Linked DNA regions of Homo sapiens: region 2 is linked to region 1. The links come from fine-mapping of genetic effects on gene expression. A gene starts in region 1. The other region holds a variant in brackets. All regions are shown on one strand. Distances are from middle to middle.

Region 1 (11,287 bases):
ATATTAACCTATTGTGATATTTGCAATAAATAGCTATATGGTTTGTTGTTGGTTTTAAATGTGAATTTATTCAATTTTCTTCATAATTTTGTTGTTTTTATAGATTTCTTTAAAAGTAATAAAATTATTGCCATATTATTATTTATTTTCAATGTCCATTACTAGCCCTTTCCAGTCATCACTTTTACTCTCATGTTCTTAATTTTTATTCATATCTTGGCTCCATTGACCATCTTTATTAGGATATTTGGGAAATAATACAATTTATACTAAACACACATCAAATCTTACCTTATTTTCTTCTTACAAAAACCCTAGGAATATGCTGTTTTTGTCTTTATTTGAATGACACAGAAATCAAGGTTTTTGAGCAGTGGAGTATTTCTTCAAATGACACAGAAATCAAGTCTTTTGAGCAGTGGAGTATTTCTTCAAAGCCACACAGCTAGTAAGTCATGAAGCTGGAATTCCAAGAGTTGCCACTTCATTTTCTTCTTTCCCTTTATCTTACTCAGTTGTCTTCTCTCCTCTTAATTTTGTCATTCATTTAAAAACATTTCTTGTGCTATTATGGTAGATTTATTTTAATAGGGGGCAGTGACTTACTCAGAGAGATGATTCTCTAATGGAGTTTTAAAGATCTTAGAAGTTGATAGAGGAGGCTGGGCGTGGTGGCTCATGCCTATAATCCCAGCACTTTGGGAGGCTGAGGTGGGTGGATCACTTGAGGCCAGAAGTTCAAGATCAGCCTAGTCAATGTGGTGAAACCCCATTTCTACTAAAATTACAAAAATTAGCCTGGTGTGCTGGTGCACTCCCATAATCCCAGCTACTCAGGAGGCTGAGGCATGAGAATTGCTGGAACCCAGGAGGCGGAGGTTGCAGTGCGCCTGGATTATTAACACTACACTCCAGCCTGGGAGACAGAGTAATACTCCATCTCAATAAAAAGAAGTTGATAAGGGAGATAGTTCATGGCAACGGATCTTTGAAGGCACGCTAATGATAACTTAGGCATTTAGCCTACTAGTGTAATTTCCATAAATCTGCCTCTGATGTCATACTCTCAGCACCTAATATTTTCTACAAACATTTATTGAAACTTTATTTTGTATAAGTCTCTGTCCAGTTTGAATATTTAAAAAATTCATAATCATATGAAACATTAATAATAAATACAAAATGAGAGATGCCGATACTGAAAAGTAGGATTGCGGAGTGGTAGAAAATATTTCTGGCTGTAGTAGATGGGGAAGTGTTCAAAGAGGAGTATAATTCAGGTTTCCATTTGCCATCGACTTATCACATGGCTAACTCACTAAGCGACTTAATTAAAATTAAATTAATTTATCATCATCTGATCACCATTTCACACAACTCATGTCTGTTGCTGTATTGGCTAAATGATGGCAAGACAAACGACCTCTGAAAATGATCCTATTGACCTTCGGAATCTGGATTTTTTTTTCAATGCAGGTGTCCATAGAAGCAATCTGATGTAATCCAACATGAGTTCAAGCACAGTCATTTAATATCCCCTATCAAGTACAGTCATTTAATATCCCCTATCATCACATGTCCTTCATACATAAAAATCATTACATGTGAAAGGGTGGAGAGTGTGTGGATCCCTTATTATTGTGTTATTGTAACACAATAACAATATTGTGTTATTATTGTTAACACAAGTGAGTCATATGTCTTGCTCTTTGGACTGAGTGGAAACTTGTATTCTTTCTCTGCCTCAGGTCAATTAACTTCATTGAGGTGAGTTGCATTCCTTCTTTAAGCATGTTGAACCTTCAATCTGGACTCAGATGGGCTAAATAGAGGAGCTAGGAAAAATACAGAAAATAAATTATTAGAGAGATCAGAGAAAGATACATAAGATTTACAATAAAAGAATTATGAGAAAAACATCCAAAAGAATTAAAAACCATAGGAGAAGGAAAAATAGGTGAACAGCTTTTTAATTTCTATAAATGTGTTGTTAATACTCATAATAAAGGACTCAGAGCTGGGATATGAGAATAATAGGTCAAACGTATATGGATACATAGATGTGACTACATACATGAGTTGCAAAGAATGCTAAGGAGGGCAAAAAGAGATTGAGAAGAGGGCATTATTACTAATATATAGCAATGTTGAATGTTTAGGGTGTTTCAGGCACTGTACAAATCTTTTAAATACACAAATCACTTAATCTTGCCATAACATTAGAAGATACTATCTACTCTTTACCAAAAAGGTAACTGTGGGATAGCAGAGTTAAGTAACCCGTTCAAACCTATGCATAATAATCAGCAGAGATGGTCCTTATCTAAGTTTTTCTGCCTTTGAAGTCCAAATAGTTTAATGCAGCCAGGTACTAAAGAAGAAAACTTTTGTAAATTAGTTTAGTTTAATGATTTACATGTGGAAAAGCACAGAGTGAAAAGCACATATCATCTGAGAAGCCCAGTGAGTTTGGCTGAAATGGAGTGAACATGTACATGTTGAGGGTGAGGAAGATGATTAGAGAGAAGTGATGTGTTGTGGTTCTTAAAAGCTAAGAGGAAACTGTTAGATATGATATAGTCTGTGGCAGGGAGCCATTGCAGGTTTTCCAAGATGGACTCATAAGGAGAAAACACTTCGTGGGACTGGAAAAGGCAGTGAAGTGGTGTGTCCTATGATAATGTACTACAGTGTAGGATAGTGGTTAAGAGTACAGTTATGAGAGAGGGACTACTGGTTAGCACCTTACCTGCTGTGTGACTGGGCAAATAATGCAAACCTCAGTGTCTTTTATTGTAATATGGGAGTAACAAAAATAGTAACTACTTCATAGGATTCTTGTAAAGATTAAATGACTTAATTTCTTTGAAGTGCTTGGCAGTTCCTGATAAATGACCAGTAGTTAATAAATGTTAGTTGTTATTATTATCATTATATATTATTACTCCCATAGATACATATAGAACAGACTGCAGCAGAGAGGCAAATCTTTAATGTTGTCAGAGTATAGACAAGTTGGTGAAATGGCTACATGAGAGCGGAGGACAAGAAGGTGCAGATTGTGGCAGTCACTTCAAATGGAAATATCACCGCTTGAATGAAGGTATATGAGTGTCAACTTGCAAGGGGACCAGGTAGGTTTCATCAGAAATTAAGGAAGCTTAAGGAGAACAGCCAAGTTCAGCTTGACAGAAGTGGTGGTGGCACAAATGCAAGACTGGTGTCTTTCAAGAAACCAAGGACTGTTGAAAGTAGCAAGAGCTAGTTTGTTTTAGGTCCATCATGTTTTATATTCACACTTTCATGTCAGTGGAGCAAAGAAATGGAATACAATATAATAGAATGGTAGAATCTTATTTTTAAAATCTGTGTTATTCTGATCTTTAACTTACTTATATCTTTGATAGAGATCTTTACCTGATGCTCAAGATTGTAGAAATAGTATAATCAACATAACAGTATAGCACTGTATTTATATCCTGCACTGTTTAGGGAGGGTTTAAGGCCATTCAAAAGGATACATAAAATACAACAAGATTACATAAATGAAAGGTGAGATAAAGCAACAAAGCAAAACAAAAGTGAAAACAGAGATCATAGGCACAAATAAGATTAAAAACGCATGTAATGAAGATGAAAGCTTTTACATTTACCCCAGATGGACCACAGGGTTGTTGTTAAGCCTTTAAACAGTGAACAATGCTGTACACTTGCATATGCAATTAGAACATGTGGAAAAAATAGTGGCCTGTTAGAAGCCTAATTAACAATTTGTGAAAAAAAAAAAAAAAAAAAAAAAAAGAGGCCGAGCTGTAGCTCACGCCTGTAATCCCTGCACTTTGGGAGGCCGAGGCGGGCGGATCACGAGGTCAGGAGATCAAGACCATCCTGGCTAACACAGTGAAACCCAGTCTCTACGAAAAATACAAAAAATTAGCCGGGCGTGGTGGCGGGAGCCTGTAGTCCCAGCTACCTGGGAGGCTGAGGCAGGAGAATGGTGTGAACCCGGGAGGCGGAGCTTGCAGTGAGCCGAGATCCTGCCACTGCACTCCAGCCTGGGCGACAAAGCAAGACTCCGTCTCAAAAAAGAAAAAAGAAAGAAAAACAAAAGAAAACTTCATTGTATTGTAAGGCCAAGAACAAAATATATCAAGATAAGGAAAATTTGTAGTCAAGAATAGAAAAAAATTATGGCTTTGAAGTATGAGTTATTTAAAGAAAGTGGAAACATCCTCAGACTATGCAGTAAAAAACAAAGTGATTTTCTTCTTCTAAACTTATGCAATAAACTGATAGGTAATATGTGAAAGTCATAGAATGTAGACTAGAGGATACAACAAACCTATTTCCTCTATGTTCATAAGAAGTAAGAAAAGCTCTGATGTGAGTTAGCATTGCTTTACAATTTTGAATTGTGCAGATTGCACGTACTTTTCCTCAGTTTGAAGTAAATAGTGGACAGGAAAAAATATTAAATGTTGGCAGTAAATATGGAAGGAAATTACAACTAATGTAATATGCTAAAACATGCTATGTTTATTTTACTAATTTGAATTAAAATGTAAGAATTTAAAATGCCCTGGAAAAACACGGGCATTGATCTGACGTCTGAAGTTTTAAAATATTACACACTTTGAAATAGCATTTGTACCTTGAAATACCTGTCTCTATATATTTTTTAAAACTTCCTTTTTCTTTCATTCCATTTATCATCAAATAAAGGATGAACAGATGTAACTCAGAAACTGTCAAGCATGCTGAAGAAAGACCACTGCAGAAAAATTTCTCCTAGCCTTTTCAAAGGTGTTAGGAAGCAGAAAGGTGATACAGAATTGGAGAGGTCGGAGTTTTTGTATTAACTGTATTAAATGCGAATCCCGAGAAAATTTCCCTTAACTACGTCCTGTAGTTATATGGATATGAAGACTTATGTGAACTTTGAAAGACGTGTCTACATAAGTTGAAATGTCCCCAATGATTCAGCTGATGCGCGTTTCTCTACTTGCCCTTTCTAGAGAGGTGCAACGGAAGCCAGAACATTCCTCCTGGAAATTCAACCTGTTTCGCAGTTTCTCGAGGAATCAGCATTCAGTCAATCCGGGCCGGGAGCAGTCATCTGTGGTGAGGCTGATTGGCTGGGCAGGAACAGCGCCGGGGCGTGGGCTGAGCACAGCCGCTTCGCTCTCTTTGCCACAGGAAGCCTGAGCTCATTCGAGTAGCGGCTCTTCCAAGCTCAAAGAAGCAGAGGCCGCTGTTCGTTTCCTTTAGGTCTTTCCACTAAAGTCGGAGTATCTTCTTCCAAAATTTCACGTCTTGGTGGCCGTTCCAAGGAGCGCGAGGTAGGGGCACGCAAAGCTGGGAGCTACTATGGGACAGTTCCCAAGTGTCAGGCTTTCAGATTTCCTGAACTTGGTCTTCACGGGAGAAGGGCTTCTTGAGGCGTGGATAGTGTGAAGTCCTCTGGCAAGTCCATGGGGACCAAGTGGGGTTAGATCTAGACTCAGGAGCTCCTGGAGCAGCGCCCAAACCGTAGTGGCACTGGACCATGTTGCCCGGAGCGCGCACAGCCCGCGCGGTGCGGGGACCTGCTCTCTGAGCCCGCGGGCGGTGGGTGGGAGGAAGCATCGTCCGCGGCGACTGGAACCGGGAGGGAGAATCGCACTGGCGGCGGGCAAAGTCCAGAACGCGCTGCCAGACCCCCAACTCTGCCTTCGTGGAGATGCTGGAGACCCCGCGCACAGGAAAGCCCCTGCAGTGCCCATCGCGGCCAGAGCAGCTGGGGCATCAACGGCGGGCGCTCCCTCTTACTGCTCTCTGGCTTCGACGGGGGACTAGAGGTTAGTCTCACCTCCAGCGCGCCTGAGGCTCATGCATTTGGCTAATGAGCTGCGGTTTCTCTTCAGGTCGGAATGGATCTTGAAGGGGACCGCAATGGAGGAGCAAAGAAGAAGAACTTTTTTAAACTGAACAATAAAAGGTAACTAGCTTGTTTCATTTTCATAGTTTACATAGTTGCGAGATTTGAGTAATTTATTTCTAGCCTCCAGCTCTGAAATAAATGACATGTTGTTGTTTTTAATTATTTTTAAGAAACGCAAGCTAGCCTTTGGAATCAATATCCCTGCTTAGAGCAGAAGTTTGTTGGCTGAGTGGAGCACAGCATATGCATTTTCCCTGTCTTTTTTGTTCTTTCTTTTAATGATACATAATATTTTACATATTTATGAAATGGGGTACATGGAAGCGTTTTTTACATGCCCGGAATGTGTAATGATCAAGTCCGGGTATTTGAAGGATACATCACCTTAGGTATATTTCATTTCTATGTGTTGATAACATTTTAAGTCTTCTAGCTACTTTGAAATATACAATATATTGCTAACTGTAGTCACCCTCGTCTGCTATCGAACATTGGAACTTATTTGTCCTATCCAACCGTTCTTAGTCATTCACCAACCTCTTTTCATTTCACCTTTTTACCCTTCCCGGCCTCTTTCCCTTAGTCTTGGTGTGCCTCTTTCTCAGCTTTCCTGCCCCAGACAGGCGGATGCTCATATGTGTTTCTGTCTTATGAACTTCTGCTTTTCAAGTGGTGTTGGTCGCCCACACGTGAGCCATATGCTGCTGGTGATCTGCTCTGTGGTCCAGGCTCTTGCTTCCGGTAAATGGCTATGTAAACATCGCGTTTGTGGCCTGGCTGATGAGACAGAAGGTCAAAAGTACATTTAGGTTGTTAACTGGCAATAAATATCTGTATATAATATTGGTAATGTAATCATATAGGGAAAATAATTATTTAAAGTAAATTTTGATCATGGTGCTCTGCCTTTATAGAATATTTAAAACTTCACTAAATAGATTCATTGTTAGTAGTAAATTGTAAAATAGACTAGTAAGTTTAATAATATTAGAAACTGTAATGTAAATTATAAGATAAATTAGTAAACACATTAATATTATAAGAAACCAAGCTTTTCAGTGTAAGAGAAAAAATACAAATGTGGAAATCAAATACATTTTTAAAAATAATGTTAAGTTTGAATTAGAAATTTCAATATGAATTCATAATCTTTTAATAGTTCATTTTCAGTCCACTGAAAGGGACAGTAACAATGAGCACTGTTAGTACCAGATCTGGGTTTCTAAATACCATTCCTCCCTAAAAGAAATGAACCCCTCAGTAGCTAATTTCAGCCAGGTCTGGGACAGGAAAAATAGAAAGTGAGCCTGGAGTATCTTGTGGTACCTGAAAATAAGGAAGTGGAGTTTAATGGAGTAGTCGAAAGCACACTGAAGCTGTCTGGAAGATGCTTCCAATGGCCAACTCTGGGACAATTTGAGCATCAAAGAACATCGTAACTGTAACTGATTTTGAGATACTGAATGCTACTGCTGAATGCTTAATATTCTGAGAGAAGGGAAACTGAAAGAAAGTGTGAGAGGTAGAGAAAATAAAGCAATGATCTTTAGAGAAAAATTCCAGCTATCATTTTGGAACTTCCATTGTTATAATAGATTCAGGCAAGGATTGTCAATGAACTCTAAACTATCAGAAAAATGTTGTATCTAAGAATTTTCTTCAGAATGTTTACTAATTGGAAGGAGAATATGCTTCTCCAATTAAAGATTTTGCAGTTAGCACCTTAACCGAGTGATCAGACCTGGTATCTCTCACGGTAGAATGGACTGTAGTAAATGACTCATCACTTGGATTTTGAGTAAACAACATCACCTAGCAAATATTAATATATCTGCAAAAACATTTAGTCTGTATACAATTAAACTTGTAGACTGGGGCTGTCCAATGGATATATCATGTGAGCCACATTTGTAATTTAAAATTTTCTAGTAGCAACAGTAAAAAATGAAAATAAAAAGATAAAGTAATTTTGTAAATATATTTTATAGAACTCAATATGTCCAAAAGATTGGATTTTCTACATGTAATCAAAATGATTAATAAGATAGTTTACATTCTCTTTTATGCTAAATCTCCTGTTTGATGTGTATTTTACATTTATTGCACCTCCCATTTGTATTCAGTTTGATACAGGTATACCCAAGATGTGGGACATTCTGTAAGACAGCTGTTCTTGTTCCTTTACAAAAGTCAATGTTAAAAAAATAAAAGGAGGACTTCTAGATTAATAGAGACTAAAGAGATATAACTACCAAACGTAGTGTGTGAACATTACAAAACAAAACAAAAACAATCTAAAAGTTCAACAAGGAAAAAATCCTATGGAAAACATTCTTGGGAGATTTGAATGTGCATTAGATATTAGCCAATATCAGAATTGTAATCACTTTTCTTAGATGTGATAATGGTAGGAGAACATGTAATTGCAATTGAAAATTTTTGTAACAAAAATGTTCATATAAACCATGAAAAAGACTCCATAGAGTGGAGGGTAGGTATTCCACTTTTTGTTTTTAACTTTGTATTTTTGAAAACTTGATAGCTTAAAGAATTATGTACTTATGATACAAACATTTAGGTAGATTTAACTAAGAAATATTGAGGGTATGTGAAGAGAAACAGTAAAGAAAATTGTATGATCTTTCACATATTTCTATTATTGGTTCTATCATGGCCTATAGACTTTTTTTTTCAAATTAGAGATTATATTTTAAAGTAGTTCTTATTAAATTGTGTTCATTGCCATTGATTTAAATCTATTTTAACATGGGATTGTAAAGAAGCATATGGCTTTGGTAATAGATAATGCTGGGATAATAGTCCTATTTGGAATATGACTATTAGCAAAGATTCTTTATTAAAATGATGTTTGATGAATGACTTGTCTTTCTAAGCACTGTTTTTTGTGCTAATGGGGATAAGTAAGTTATCTAGTAGGGGTGAGAGTTTGTGTGAAAGTGCATTTTAATGTGATGCGATGCAGTATCTCAGAAATCTGAGGTTGCACCTTATAGTTTGGTGGTCAGGGAACAGACTTGGCATTTAAATATTGGCTTAGTTATAGCTGTGAACCTTGGACAAGTTAACTCTTCTCACTCTTCTACGTCTCTAAAAGAACAAAAATGTGTCTTCCTCATAGAATTGTTTATGAATTGTGTGTGGGAAGTGCTTACTTAGCCAGTGCCTGGAACATTATAACTTCTCCAGAGTAGCAGCTGTTTTAGAGAACAAAAAAATAAATAAAAGGCTTAGAGCTAAAACTCAACTATTTATGGCTATTTTTCTCCTTTCATCCTGGTTCCAGGGATACTGAAACCATGCCTTTACTGGGAATTGGGTGGGACCAAACCTGAAGAGTTGTGTTTGTGTATTTTATGTCTGTCTAACATTACTCCAAAGCCAAATGGGTAAACTCTGGATTTTTTTCTTTAGAAGTCTCCTCACCTCTTTTGACCTCACTTAGTGTAAAGAACAAAGACAAAGATGAATTTACCTTATGAACTTAAAAACCGTGTAAAAAATAACACAAATCTTTTCTAAAATAGTTTTTCTTTTATACCTACAAAAATACAGATGAGGCAGATTTGTTACGGTTGGTTTGCTTTCACATCCTAGGTAGCAGTTACACAGAGTAGAAAATGGGCTACAGAGTTAGATTCATTTGTATCTGGGCTCAAAATAATAGTTGACCTTATGCCTGAGGAGAACTTTTTGACAATTTATAGAACATCATTTCTGACCATAGCTTTCTAGCGTGCATTTATTTCATAATGGTCCATTTAGGACTCCAGACATTTTTTTCACAATTAGATTTGCTTATAAGGAGTAATTTAATTTTCTTCTGAGGCTAGTTATGCCCAGCATCTAATTGCCACTTCTCTTCACTAGAAAGGGAAGGATTAAGAATAATATCTGGGTAGTGGATGGATAAAATGTCTACTGCCATCATTAATCAAATGACAATTAAGGGGATTCATAATTAAGGGGAAGCATGAATGATTTTCTAATTAGAATAAAAACAGGGAACTCTTTTCAGTATGTATATTTTTCTAATTGCAAAGGGTGTATGTATGTATTCATCATAGCAAATCAGGAAATATCAAAGGCACAAGGAAGAAAATATTTTTAGAGAGATTCCAGCACTCAGTGATAACCACGTATGTAGATTTCTAAGATATATGTAAACATATTTAAACATTATAAATGGGGTCATACTATTATCATCCTGTTTTTTAACTGTATAATATAGACATATTTCTTCTTCCTATTAGTCATTAAATATACATTCTATGTTAATTTGGGTAATTTAAAAAATATGTACTTTTTAAAGTTTTATGTAATTCCATTGCTGTTTTGCAGTGAAAAAGATAAGAAGGAAAAGAAACCAACTGTCAGTGTATTTTCAATGGTGAGTTTTGAATTTATTAACTATTCAAAATACTTCGGAAATTTGACATCTCCTTACATGGAAAAGAGATATTTCATCTGATGTAAGATTTTCGTATAGGGTATGTTAATGGAGATGCAAAATAAATTGGTTTGATTTAGCTTATTTTCAGGAGAATGCTGATCATAACTTGCTATCTATATTACTAATCTACAGCCACCATTCCTGACTTAGATTTCAATTCTTCTAATGAATTATGTTGCCAGTGATCCATTACCTACACAAGCACCTCTCCCATCTGCATAGAGGAAACCAATCACATAGAATGCTGTCTTTAATGGCTCTGAAATTTGGCAGGTTTTTTAGGTCAAAGTCAGTTGCTATCAATAAAAGTTAGCAATGGATTATTTATTACTATGCAAATTTTAGGTCATTTAGGTTAGTCCATTGCAAATTTTAGTTCAAAATCCATTACTAACAATAAAAGGTAGCAATGGATTATTTATTACTATGATTTCAAATATGTCATATGCCATTATTCCCCTGTGTTAAACAGATGAAAATCTAGAATTCGAAAACCTTATTGTAACTCTTTATTTCATTTTCTGGTTGCACAGTGGTTTTTTTAGAAGCTTTTCTTTAATCACACTTGGAATCAGACATGTATCATATATGTGTGGTTGGTTGATGACCTCAGTGCTGTGATCTTGGCTCACTGCAACCTCTGCCTAGTTAATGACCTCTTATTTACCTGGATTCTTACTTCCTTTTTTCTAAGAGTACAAATTTAGGTGAACTGTTAGGTGAAAGATTCCAGAGATTAGAACCTGGAAGACTACTAAACCAATTAAGTCCAACAGCACATGCTTTATAATTCAGTCATAACACAGCAATTTTTTTAAGGTAAGGGAGTGGATAGATTGTCTTGCAAAATGGATTTTAATAAATTGACTATAAAAATAGTTGTAGGTAGGGAAAAA
Region 2 (11,287 bases), 82 kb before region 1:
CATCTAAGTCAGGAAGAGCTTTGAGGTTCAAGCCAGAGTTCCTGAGCAATGCTTAGGTATCATAACAGTTCAATTGGATTAGAGAAATTCTAAAATGTCAAGTCACAGGAGTTCTAACTCGTTTTAAGAGTCCAAATCCAAGTCCTATCAGAAAAAAATAAAGAAATTATTACTCTTCCATCAATTTTTCAACAAATAATGACTGAGTTTCTGCCATATCGTAGGCACTGCTCTAGAGATTTGGATACACCAATGAACAAAACAGATGAAGATCTTAGTCCTGGTAAAGCTTACGTTTTAGTGGAGGTGAAGAAAGATAATAAACAATAATCATAATAAGTACATAAAATAATATGCTAGAAGTTAAGACTTAATGTAACTCAGGGGAAAGAGGTCAGGAGTGCTTGAGGTTGAAAGGAGGGGAGGTGATTTATTATTTAAAATATAGTGGAAGGGTTAAACCTCATGGAGTAGTTTTCAAATGGATGAGGGTGTTAACCATTCAGATACTAGAAGAAGTGTGCTCCTTACACAGTAAACAGCCAGTGCAATGGTGCCCTGTGGTAGAATGTGCCTGATATAGTCAAGAAAAATCAAAAGACTGATAAGGGTAGAGAACAGTAAGTTGTGGGGGAAAAACTAGCTGTACACAAATATAACTGAAAAAATATTAAGAATCAATATAAAATCTAAACTGAATGTGAGTCAGCAAGCCAAATGTTAATAAGTATAATTAGCAGATTAAATTATACGCAATTTAACAGTGTCTTACATTTAATCATTTTTTCTTTAATAAGTGCTACATTTCTAATTGACAGTCTATACTTGTCTGGTATACTCAGCTTTTTCTTTTCTTTCTTTTTTTTTTTTTTCTTTTGGAGATAGAGTCTCCCTCTGTTGTCCAGGCTGGAGTGGAGTGGCACAATCATGGCTCACTGCAGCCTTGGTCTCCTTGGGCTCAGGTGACCCTCCCACCTTAGCCTCCCAAGTAGCTGGGACTACAGATGCACACCTACATGCTCAGTTAATTCTTTTTTTTTTTTTTTTCTAGAGGCGGGGTTTCACCATGTTGCCCAGGTGGGTCTCAAACTCCTGGGCCTCAAGTGATCTGCCTGCCTTGGCTCCCAAAGTGCTGGGATTACAGGCATGAGCCACTGCACCTGGCTAACTTTTTCATTTTAATCAGTTATTTTCCATATAAACTTTACAAAAATCACTAATACATCCCATCCTCATGTCACCAAGCTGAAGTTTACAACGTTGTCTCTGATGACTTTACTGCTAAATTTCTATTTTTCTTAATCTATGTGGCCTACCAGTCAGTCCATAAATAATCAAAGTCACAGATGACATTTTAAAGAACTGTAATTTTCATTTGAGGTACTTCTATGCCTCTTTCTTGTGTAAAGCCTTCCCTCACCCATCCAAGAAAAACAGATATACTCCTTTGTGTTACACCATGCTCGTTAATATACTTCTATTATGACTTGATGACATTAGTACACACAATTATTTGTTAATGTGTCCTTATTCTACCTTTCAAGACTGAGTTTCATGTGAAAGCATACCTTATTAATCTCATATCCTGGGCCCCCAGCACAGGGCCTAAATTTGTTGTTGAATAAGAGAATGAATGAGGTAAAGAGAATAGAAAAATTGTAAGAAAAAAAATTGTGGGTGGAGGGAAGCCAAAAAAAGCAGAAAGTATACATCAAGTGTAAATTTAAGGCATCTGTTTCAGAAAAAGAACAGGGAACTCAGGTTATGATTCATTTCCAAAGCAGAGAAAAAGTAGAAGTAATACTTGGCCAAGAAAAATATGGAGGGGTGATGGTAAAGGAGTATTCCTTGGGACTTCTTTTTACTGGGCTCTGTGACAAATTGTCCAGCTTTCTAAAATAAGTGAGGATCAAGGAGTTAGAATCTTACATATTATAATCGAAAGTGGGATCCTCCCCATTTTAAAATGTTTTAATGGGAAGCAATAGAATTTGGGGGAGTTATACATTTATTCCTTGTAGTAAATTTGCTGTTGCTATGAGTTTTGAAAAATAGAGGGAGTCATGTAACCATGATTATGAGACACATAACAGTTTCATCATGCAAAGAAACTCCTTCATCATGATGCTTGTCAACCCCCACCCTGCAACCTTTAATCCCTAGTACCACTTATCTGTTCTCTGATACTACAGTTTGGTCTTTCCTAGAATGTCATATAAATGGAATCATACGTAATCTTTAGGGTTTTGCTTCTTTCATTTAGCCATAATGTATCTGACATTTATACATGTTGTTGTGTGTGGAAATTTTTTTTCCTTTTTATTACTGAGTTTGTCCAGTGTATGAACATACAACAGTTTATCCAGGCATCACATGAAAGATACTTGGGTTGTTTCCAGTTTTTGACAAAAGAGCTTGATAAAGGTGTGTAGTGCTACCTAATATGGTTTGAATTTGCATTTTCCTAATTACTAATGATGTTGAACATCTTTTCATTTGTTTACTTGCCATATGTGTATCTTCTTTGATGAAATATCTGTTCAGCTCTTTGCATATTTTAAAATTGGATTGGTTTTCATATTATTAAGGTTTTTATAGCAATTCTTTGTATATTATGCATACAATCCCTTTGTCAAACATGTGATTTGCAAATATTTTTTCCTGGTCTATGCCTTGTCTTATCATTAACAGTGTCTTTCAGGGAGTAAAAGCTTTTAATTTTGATGAAGTCCACTTTATCAATTTTTTTTGTTTAATGGATTGTACTTTTGTTGTTATATCTAAAATCTGTTTGCCTAATTAAACAAAGATATTCTACATTTTTAAGAGTTTTATACTTTTACATTTTGTGTTTACACCTATAACCCACCTTGAGCTAAATGTGAGGTAAGGAACAAGGTTCACTTTTTTTTTGCACACAGGTATTCAATTAATCCTAGCCTATTATTCTTAAAGGTTATCACTTTTCCATGAAATTGTCTTTGCATTAGCAAAATGAATCAAGCATATTTATGTGTATCTTTTTCCAAACTCTCTATTCTATTCTATTCTTTTTTTTTTTTTTTTTTTTTTTTTTTGAGACGGAGTCTCACTCTGTCACCAGGCTGGAGTGCAGTGGCACGATCTCGACTCACTGCAATCTCTGCCTCCTGGGTTCAAGCAATCCTCCTGCCTCAGCCTCCTGCGTAGCTGGGGCTACAGGCACGTGCTACCATGCCCAACTAATTTTTTGTATTTTTAGTAGAGATGGGATTTCACCATGTTGGCCAGGATGGTCTCGATCTCTTGACCTCATGATCCGCCTGCCTCGGCCTCCCAAAGTGCTGGGTCTGCTCTATTTATCTATACGTATAAGCTTTTACCAATAACACACTGATTACTGCATCTTAACAGTAAGTCTTAAAATCAGATAATTTGAGTTTCCAACTTAGTTCTTCCTTCATGAAATTGTTTTGCCTATTCCAGTTACTTTGCCTAGACATATAAATTTTAGAGTAAGTTTTATATCTACAAAAAAAGCCTTCTAAAACTTTGAGATTGCATTGAATCTATAAAACAATATGAAAAGAACTGACATCTTAACAACGAGTTTTCCAATCTGTAATGAAGAATTACCCATCCAGAATATCAACAGTATCAATGTTGAGAAACCCTGTTGTAAACTTCTGTAGATGCCCTTTAAGGAAGTTTTCTTCTAATACCTAGCTGTAAAGATTTTTTTTAACATGAATTAAAGTTGAATTTTGTCAAATGCTTTTCTATGCACCTATTAGTAGGATCCTATCATTTTTATTCTTTAGTCTGCTAATAAAATGAAATACATCCATTTTCAAGTACTGAAGCATTCTTGCATTCCAGTTTGATCTGTCAATATTTATTGAAGATTCTGATGTCTGTGTCCATGAGGTGTACTGGTATGTACAGTCATTTCTTGTTTTAATGTATTTCACTTTATTGTGCTTTGCAGATATTGTATTTTTTACACGTTGAAGGTTTGTGTCAACCTTGCATCCAGCAAGTCTTTCGGTGCAATTTTTCCAATAGCATGTGCTTACTTTGTGTCTCCCTGTCATGTTTTGGTAATTCTCACAGTATTTCAAACTTTTTCATTATTATTGTATCTGTTATGGTGAACTGTGATGAGTGATCTTTGATGTTACTATTGTAATAATTTTGGGGCGCCATGAACCACACCTGTATAAAATGGCAAGCTTAATTGATAAATGTGTGTGTTCTGAATGCTCCAGCTACCGGCCATTTCCCATCTCTCTCTTTCTCCTCAGGTCTCCCTATTCCCTTGAGACACAACAATACTGAAATTAGGCCAATTAATAATCCTATAATGGCCTCTAAGTGAAGAGTGGCATATATCTCACTTTAAATCAAAAGCTGTACACGATTAATCTTATTGAGGAAGGCATGTCAAAAACTGAGATAGCCAAAACCTAGGCCTCTTGTGCCAGTTAGGCAAGTGGTGAATACAAAGAAAAAGTTCAAAGGAAATTAAAAGTACTATTCCAGTGAACACATGAAGGAAGTGAAAGAGCCTTATTGCTGATATGAAGAAAGTTTGAGTGGTCTGAATAGAAGACCAAACCAGCCACAACATTCTCTTAAGCCAAAGCCTAATCCACAGTAAGGTCCTCTCTTTAATGCTATGAAGGATGAGAGAGGCAAAGACGCCGCAGAAGAAAAGTTTGAAGCTAGCAGAGGTTGGTTCATGAAGTTTCAGAAAAAAGCCATCTCTGTACATAAAAAAATAATAATAATAAAACAAAAAGGTGAAGCAGCAAGTGCTGATGGAGAAGTTGTGCTAACTTATCCAGAAGACTGAACTAAGATAACTGATGAAGGTGGCTACACTAAACAACAGATTTTCAATGTAGACCTAACAGCTTTATATTGGAAGAAGATGCCATCTAAACCTTTCATAGTAAAAGAAGAGAAGTTAATGCCTGGCTTTAACGCTTCAAAGGACAGGCTGACTCTCTTATTAGGGGCTAACGCAGCTGGTGGCTTTAAGTTGAAGCCAATGCTTATTTACCATTCCAAAAAATCCTAGGGTATTTAAGAATTATGCTAAATCTACTCTGCCTGAGCTCTATAAATGGAGCAACAAAGCCTGGATGACAGCTCCTCTGTTTACAGTTTGGCTTACTAAATATTCAAAGCCCATTGTTTTGATCCACTACTCAGAAAAAAGATTCCTTTCAAAGTATTACTGCTCATTGACAATGCACCTAGTCACCCAAGAACTATGACAGAGATGTACCAGGAGATTAATGTTGTTTTCATGGCTTCTAACACAACATCCAATCTGTAGCCCAGGGATCAGGAAGTAATTTAGACCCAAGTCTTACTATTGAAAAAGTATATTTCTTAAGGCTCTAGCCTCCATAGACAATGAGTCTTCTGATGGATCTGGGCAAAGTAAATTGAAAATCTTCTGGAAAAGATTC[G/A]TCAAGAACATTCGAGATTTATGAGAAGAGGTTAAAATATCAACATTAACAGAATATCAACATTAACAGGAATTTGGAAAAAGTTGATTCCAACTCTCATGGATGACTTAGAGGGGTTCAAGACTTTGGTGGAAGGAGTCATTGCAGATAACATGGAAATCGCAAGAGAACTAGAAGTAGAACTTGAAGATGTGACTGAATTATTGCAATCTTATGATCAAACTTGAACAGATGAGGAGTTCCTTCTTATGGATGAGCAAAGAAAGTGGTTTCTTGAAATGGAATGTACTCCTGGTGAAGACACTGTGAACATTATTGAAATGACAACAACAGAAGATTTAAGATATTAAATGAACTTAGTTGATAAAGCAGTGGCAGGGTTTGAGAGTATTGACTCCAATTTTGAAAGAAGTTCTACTGTGGGTAGAACGCTACCAAATAACATTGCATGCTAGAGAGAAACCTTTCATGAAAGGAAGAGTCCATGGATGCAGCAAAATTCACTGCTGTCTCTTTGTTGTTGTTGTTGAGATGGGGTCTTGCTATATTGCCCAGACTGGTCTGGAACTCAAGTGATCCTCCTGCCTTGGCTCCCAAGTGCTGGGATTATAGCTGTAAGCCACTGTGCCCAGCCCATTGTTGTCTTAAGACATTGTCATATCCACCCCATCCTTCAGCAGCCAGCACATCAATCAGTCAGCAGCCATCAATATTGAGGCAAGACCCTCCACCAGCAAAAAGGTAATGACTTGCTGAAGGCTCAGATGATTGTTAGCATTTTTAGCAGTAAAGTAGTTTAATTAGGGTATGTACATTTTTTAGACATAATGCTATTACACACTTAATAGATTACAGTGTAGTGTAAATACAACTTTTAATACGCACTGGGGAAACCAAAAATTTTTTGTGACTTGCTTTATAGCAATATTTACTTTATTGAATTAGTCTTGAACTGAACAAGCAATATACCTCAGTATGAGTAGAGTTTCCTTTTCTTGTAATATTTTGTCTAATTTTGTATCAGGCTAATAGTTTCCTTATAAAATGAGTTGAGAAATGTTATCTCCTATTTTCTGAGATGGATTGAATAGGATTACTATTATTACCTTAATGGCTGGTTGCAATCAACAGCAAAAATATCTAGGCCTGGAGTTTTCATTGTTGGAAGGTTTTAAATACTGATTCAACTTCTTTAATAGATATAGGACTATTTGTGTTATCTACTTCTTTATGAGTTTTGTTAGGATTTGTCTTTCAAGAAATTGGCCCATTTCCTCCACAATTAACTTTTTATCCTTTGAATGTAAGGTCTGTAGTCATATGCCCTCTTTCATTCCTGATATTGGAAATTTGTATCCTTTCTCATTTTCTTGATCAGCCTAACCAGAAGTTTATGAATTTTATTAATGATTTCAAGCAATCATCCTTTCATATCACCAATTATTGTTTTTGTTTTTAATTTCATTGATTTCTGCTTTTATCTATTATTTCCTCCATTTTGCTTGTTTTGGGTTTAATTTTCCCTTCTTTATTTAGTTTCTTTTTCTTTTTTCTTTTCTTTTCTTTTTTTTGAGATGGAGTTTCACTCCTTGCCCAAGCTGGAGTGCAATGGCGCGATCTTGGCTCACTGCACCCTCCGCCTCCCAGGTTCAAGTGATTCTCCTGCCTTCAGCCTCCTAAGTAGCTGGGATTACAGGCACACACCACCATGCCTGGCTAATTTTTTGTATTTTTGGTAGAAACGGGGTTTCACCATGTTAGTCAGGCTGGCCTTAAACTCCTGACCTAAGGTGATCCACTCGCCTTGGCCTCCCTAAGTGCTGGGATTACAGGCGTGAGCCACCGGGCCCGGCCCCTTTTTTAGTTTCTTAAGGTGAAAGCTTAGGTTACTGATTTCAGACAATTCTTTCTAAGTAAGTTTTTAATGTTTTAAATTTCCTTCTAAGTGCTGCTTTAATTGCATGCTACACATTTTGATACAACGCGTTTTAGTTTTTCATTCAGTTCAAAAGACTAATTTTCCTCGAGAATCCCTCTTTGATCCAAGAGTTATTAGCAAAGACTTGGAACCAACCCAAATGTCTATCAATGATAGACTGGATTAAGAAAATGTGGCACATACACACCATGGAATACTACGCAGCCACAAAAAGGGATGAGGTCATGTCCTTTGCAGGGACATGGATGAAGCTGGAAACCATCACTCTCAGCAAACTATTACAAGATCAGAAAACCAAACACTGCATGTTCTCACTCATAAGTGGAAGTTGAACAACGAGAACACATGGACACAGGGTGGGGAACGTCATATACTGGGGCCTGTCTAGGGGTGGGTGGCTAGGGTAGGGATAACATTAGGAGAAATACCTAATGTAGGTGACAGGTTGATGGGTGCAGCAAACCACCATGGCACATGTAAAGTATAATTTGTTTAAAAAAGTGTATTTTTACATTTTCAAACATTTGGTGATTTTTCAGATATCTTCTGTTCTTGACATCTAGTTTCATTCCATTACAGAGAACATACTTTATATGATTTCAATTCTTTTAAATTTGCTAAGGTTTCTTTTATGGCTCAGAATAAGATCTTTTTTAATGTTCCACTTGCCCTCGAAAAGAATATATATTCTGCCACTGAGGAGTATTTTATAAATGTTAATTATAAATGTTGGGGTGGCCAGGCACAGTGGTTCACACTTGTAATCTCAGCACTTTGAAAGGCTGAAGTGAGAGGACCACTTGAGCCCAGTAGTTCGAGACCAGCCAGGGCAACATAGTGAGACCTAGCCTCTATAAAAAATCAAAAAATTAGCTGGGTGTAGTGGTGTGTGCCTGTAGTCCCAGCTACTCAGGAACCTGAGGTGGGAGAATCATTTGAGCTTGGGGATGTGGAGGCTGTGGTGAGCCATGATTGTGCCATTGCACTCCAACCTGGGTGACAGGGTGAGATCCTGTCTTAAAAAAAAGTTGGGGGCCGGGCACGGTGGCTCACACTTGTAATCCCAGCACTTTGGGAGGCCAAGGTGGGTGGATCACGAGGTCAGGAGATGGAGACCATCCTGGCTAACACTGTGAAACTCCGTCTCTACTAAAAATACAAAAAAATTACCCGGGCGTGGTGGCGGGCACCTGTAGTCCCAGCTTCTTGGGAGGCTGAGGCAGGAGAATGGTGTGAACCCAGGAGGAGGAGCTTGCAGTGAGCCAAGATCGCGCCACTGCACTCCAGCCTGGGGGAAAGAGCGGGACTCTGTCTCAAAAAAAAAAAAAAAAAAAAAAAGTTGGGGTGTTTTATAAATGTCAGTTGGCTGATAATATTGCCAAGATCATTTGTACCCTTACTAATTTTCTGTTTACTTGATCTACTATTATGAGAGGAGTGTTGACATTGCTAAGTATAATGTAGATTTTTCTATTTTCTCCTCTCAGTTCTGTTACCTTTTGCTTTTTAGACTCTGTTATCAGCTGCATACATACTTTGGTTTTGTTCTGTCTTCTTGGCAAATTAATCTGCTTTTTAATATGTAAATGTCCAACTTTATCCCTGTCAGTTTTCTTTGTTCTGAAATCTACTTTGATATATAATTAAATCTACTCCAACTTTTTTTCAATTACTTTCTGCATGGAATAACTTTTTCTATCCTTTTAACCTATCTTTATCACTATAATTAAAATGGGTTTCTGTATATATTGAGTCCTTTTTTTACCCAGTCAAAAAATCTCTTTTAATTGGAGTGCTTAGGCCATTTATATTTAACATATCTATTAATAAGGTTTGATTTAGGTCTACCATTTTATTGTTTGTTTTCTGTTTATCCCTTTTTTCACCACCTTCTTTTTGGATAACTTTAATGTTTTAATGTTCCATTTTAATTTATTTATTGGCTTTTTTGGCTAAAAACTCTTAGTATCTTTATAGTCACTACTTTATGAAATAGAACACCTAATATTTAATAGTCTACAGTTAACATTTTAGCATTTCAACTAAATATATATAACCACATAGTTCCCTTTACTCTGTAGCCTTTGCTTTAAAAGTCACTTGTACTATACATGCAAACCTGGAAACCTTCCCCAGCAATGCCATAAATTTTGCTTTCAAGAGTAGAGTCAGGGCCAGGCATGGTGGCTCACACCTGTAATCCCAGAACTTTGAGAGGCTGAAATGGGAGGATTGCTTGAGTAGTCATATTGAAAGACCTTAATAGAGGAGAAAAACTCTGCTGTATTTATTTAGATATTCACAGTTTCTGTTGCTCTTTCTTCATTCATGAAGTTCCAAGTTTTCTTCTGATACCATCTCCCTTTAGCCTGAAGAACTTTTGTTAGCATTTCTTTTAGACCAGATTTGCTAGTAATAATTCTTAGTTTTCCTTTATCTGGGAATTTCTTTATTTTGTCCTCATCTCTGAAGTACATTTTCACTGAATACAGAATTCTGGGTTAGCAGTGCTTTTCTTTTAGAACTCTAAAGATGCTATTTCACTGTCATCTGTCCTCCATGGTTCCTGTTGAAAACCCTGCATTCACTTGAACTGTTGTTCCCTATATGTAATAAATTATATTTCTCTGGCAGGTTTCAAGATTTTTTGCTGTAATCTTCTATGTTTAGAAGTTTGATTATCATGTGTTTAGAAGCAGTTAACTTTAAGTTTATCCCTTTTGAGGTTTTGTTGGGTTTTTTGTTTTGTTCTGTTTTGGATTTTTGTGTGTGTATGTATGGTGAGAACACTTGAGATCTACTATCATAGCAATTTTCAAGTACACAATATAGGTCTCCAGCACTTAATCATCTTATAACTGAAGGCTTGTACCCTTTGACCAATATCTCCCCTTTTCTCCTATCCCCCAGCCTCTGGTAATCAACATTTTACTCTCTGTTACTATAAGTTTGACTATTTTTAGGCTCCATATCTAATACATGAGATCACGTGGTATTTGTCTTTCTGTGTCTTGCATATTTCATGTAGTTTATTGACCTCCAGGTTCATCTGTTACTGCAAATCGCAGGATTTCCTTTTTTTTTTTTTTTAAATCTGAAATGGTATTCCATTGTGGTGTGTGTGTGTGTGTGTGTGTGTGTGTGTGTGTGTTATATACACTGTAGTTTATTAATCCATCCTTCTGTTGACAGCTACTTAGGTTGTCTTAATATCTTGGCTACTGTTAAAAATCCTGCAATAAACATAGAAGTGCAAATATCTCTTCCAAATACTGATTTTATCTTCTTTCAATAAATAACCCAGAAGTAGAACTGCTGGATCATATGGCAGTTCTACTTGTAATTTTTTGAGGAACCTCCATACTGTTTTCCATAATGGCTGTCCTAATCTACATTCCCACCAATAGAGTAGGAAGGTTCCCTTTTCTCCACATCCTTGCCAACACTTGTTATCTTTTGATTGTTTTTTATACTGGCCATCTAGACAGATGTAAGGCATTATTAAATTTTGTGGTTTAGATTTGCATTTCTCTGATGAGTAGTGATATCGAGTGTCTTTTCATATATCAGTTGGCCATCTGTATGTTTTCTGATCCTCTGCCCATTTTTATTATTTAGTGGAAGGGAATATGAGTGATTTTAAGATAAGGCAAGGAGTTGTGATCCAGGTAATGGAACATGGTAAAGGCATTTATCTTTTTTTTTTTTTTTTTTTTTTTTTTGAGACAGGGTCTTGCTCTGTTGCCCAGGCTGGAGTGCAATGGCATGATCTTGGCTCACTGCAACCTCTGCCTCCTAGGTTCAAGCAATTCTCGGGCCTCAGCCTCCTGAGTAGCTGGGACTACAGGCATACACCACTATACCTGGCTAATTATTGTGTTTTCAGTAG

What was found.
Region 2: its variant is fine-mapped to the expression of ABCB1 in whole blood (TOPMed, PIP above 0.99).

What each region holds. Positions count from the first base shown.
Region 1 is chr7:87,594,807-87,606,093 of GRCh38, reverse strand. ABCB1 (ATP binding cassette subfamily B member 1) reads left to right here and starts at 5,210. Exons shown (of 28, transcript NM_001348946.2): 1 at 5,210-5,339; 2 at 5,904-5,977; 3 at 10,280-10,328. The coding sequence starts at 5,910. RefSeq lists enhancers at 6,309-6,698, 5,908-7,107.
Region 2 is chr7:87,676,537-87,687,823 of GRCh38, reverse strand. All of the region lies in intron 2 of RUNDC3B (RUN domain containing 3B), which reads right to left. It also overlaps a transcript of ABCB1 not described here. Among named protein-coding and RNA genes, the nearest start is that of RUNDC3B, 54 kb to the right of the region's middle. The variant G/A (reference allele first, on the strand shown) is at 5,460.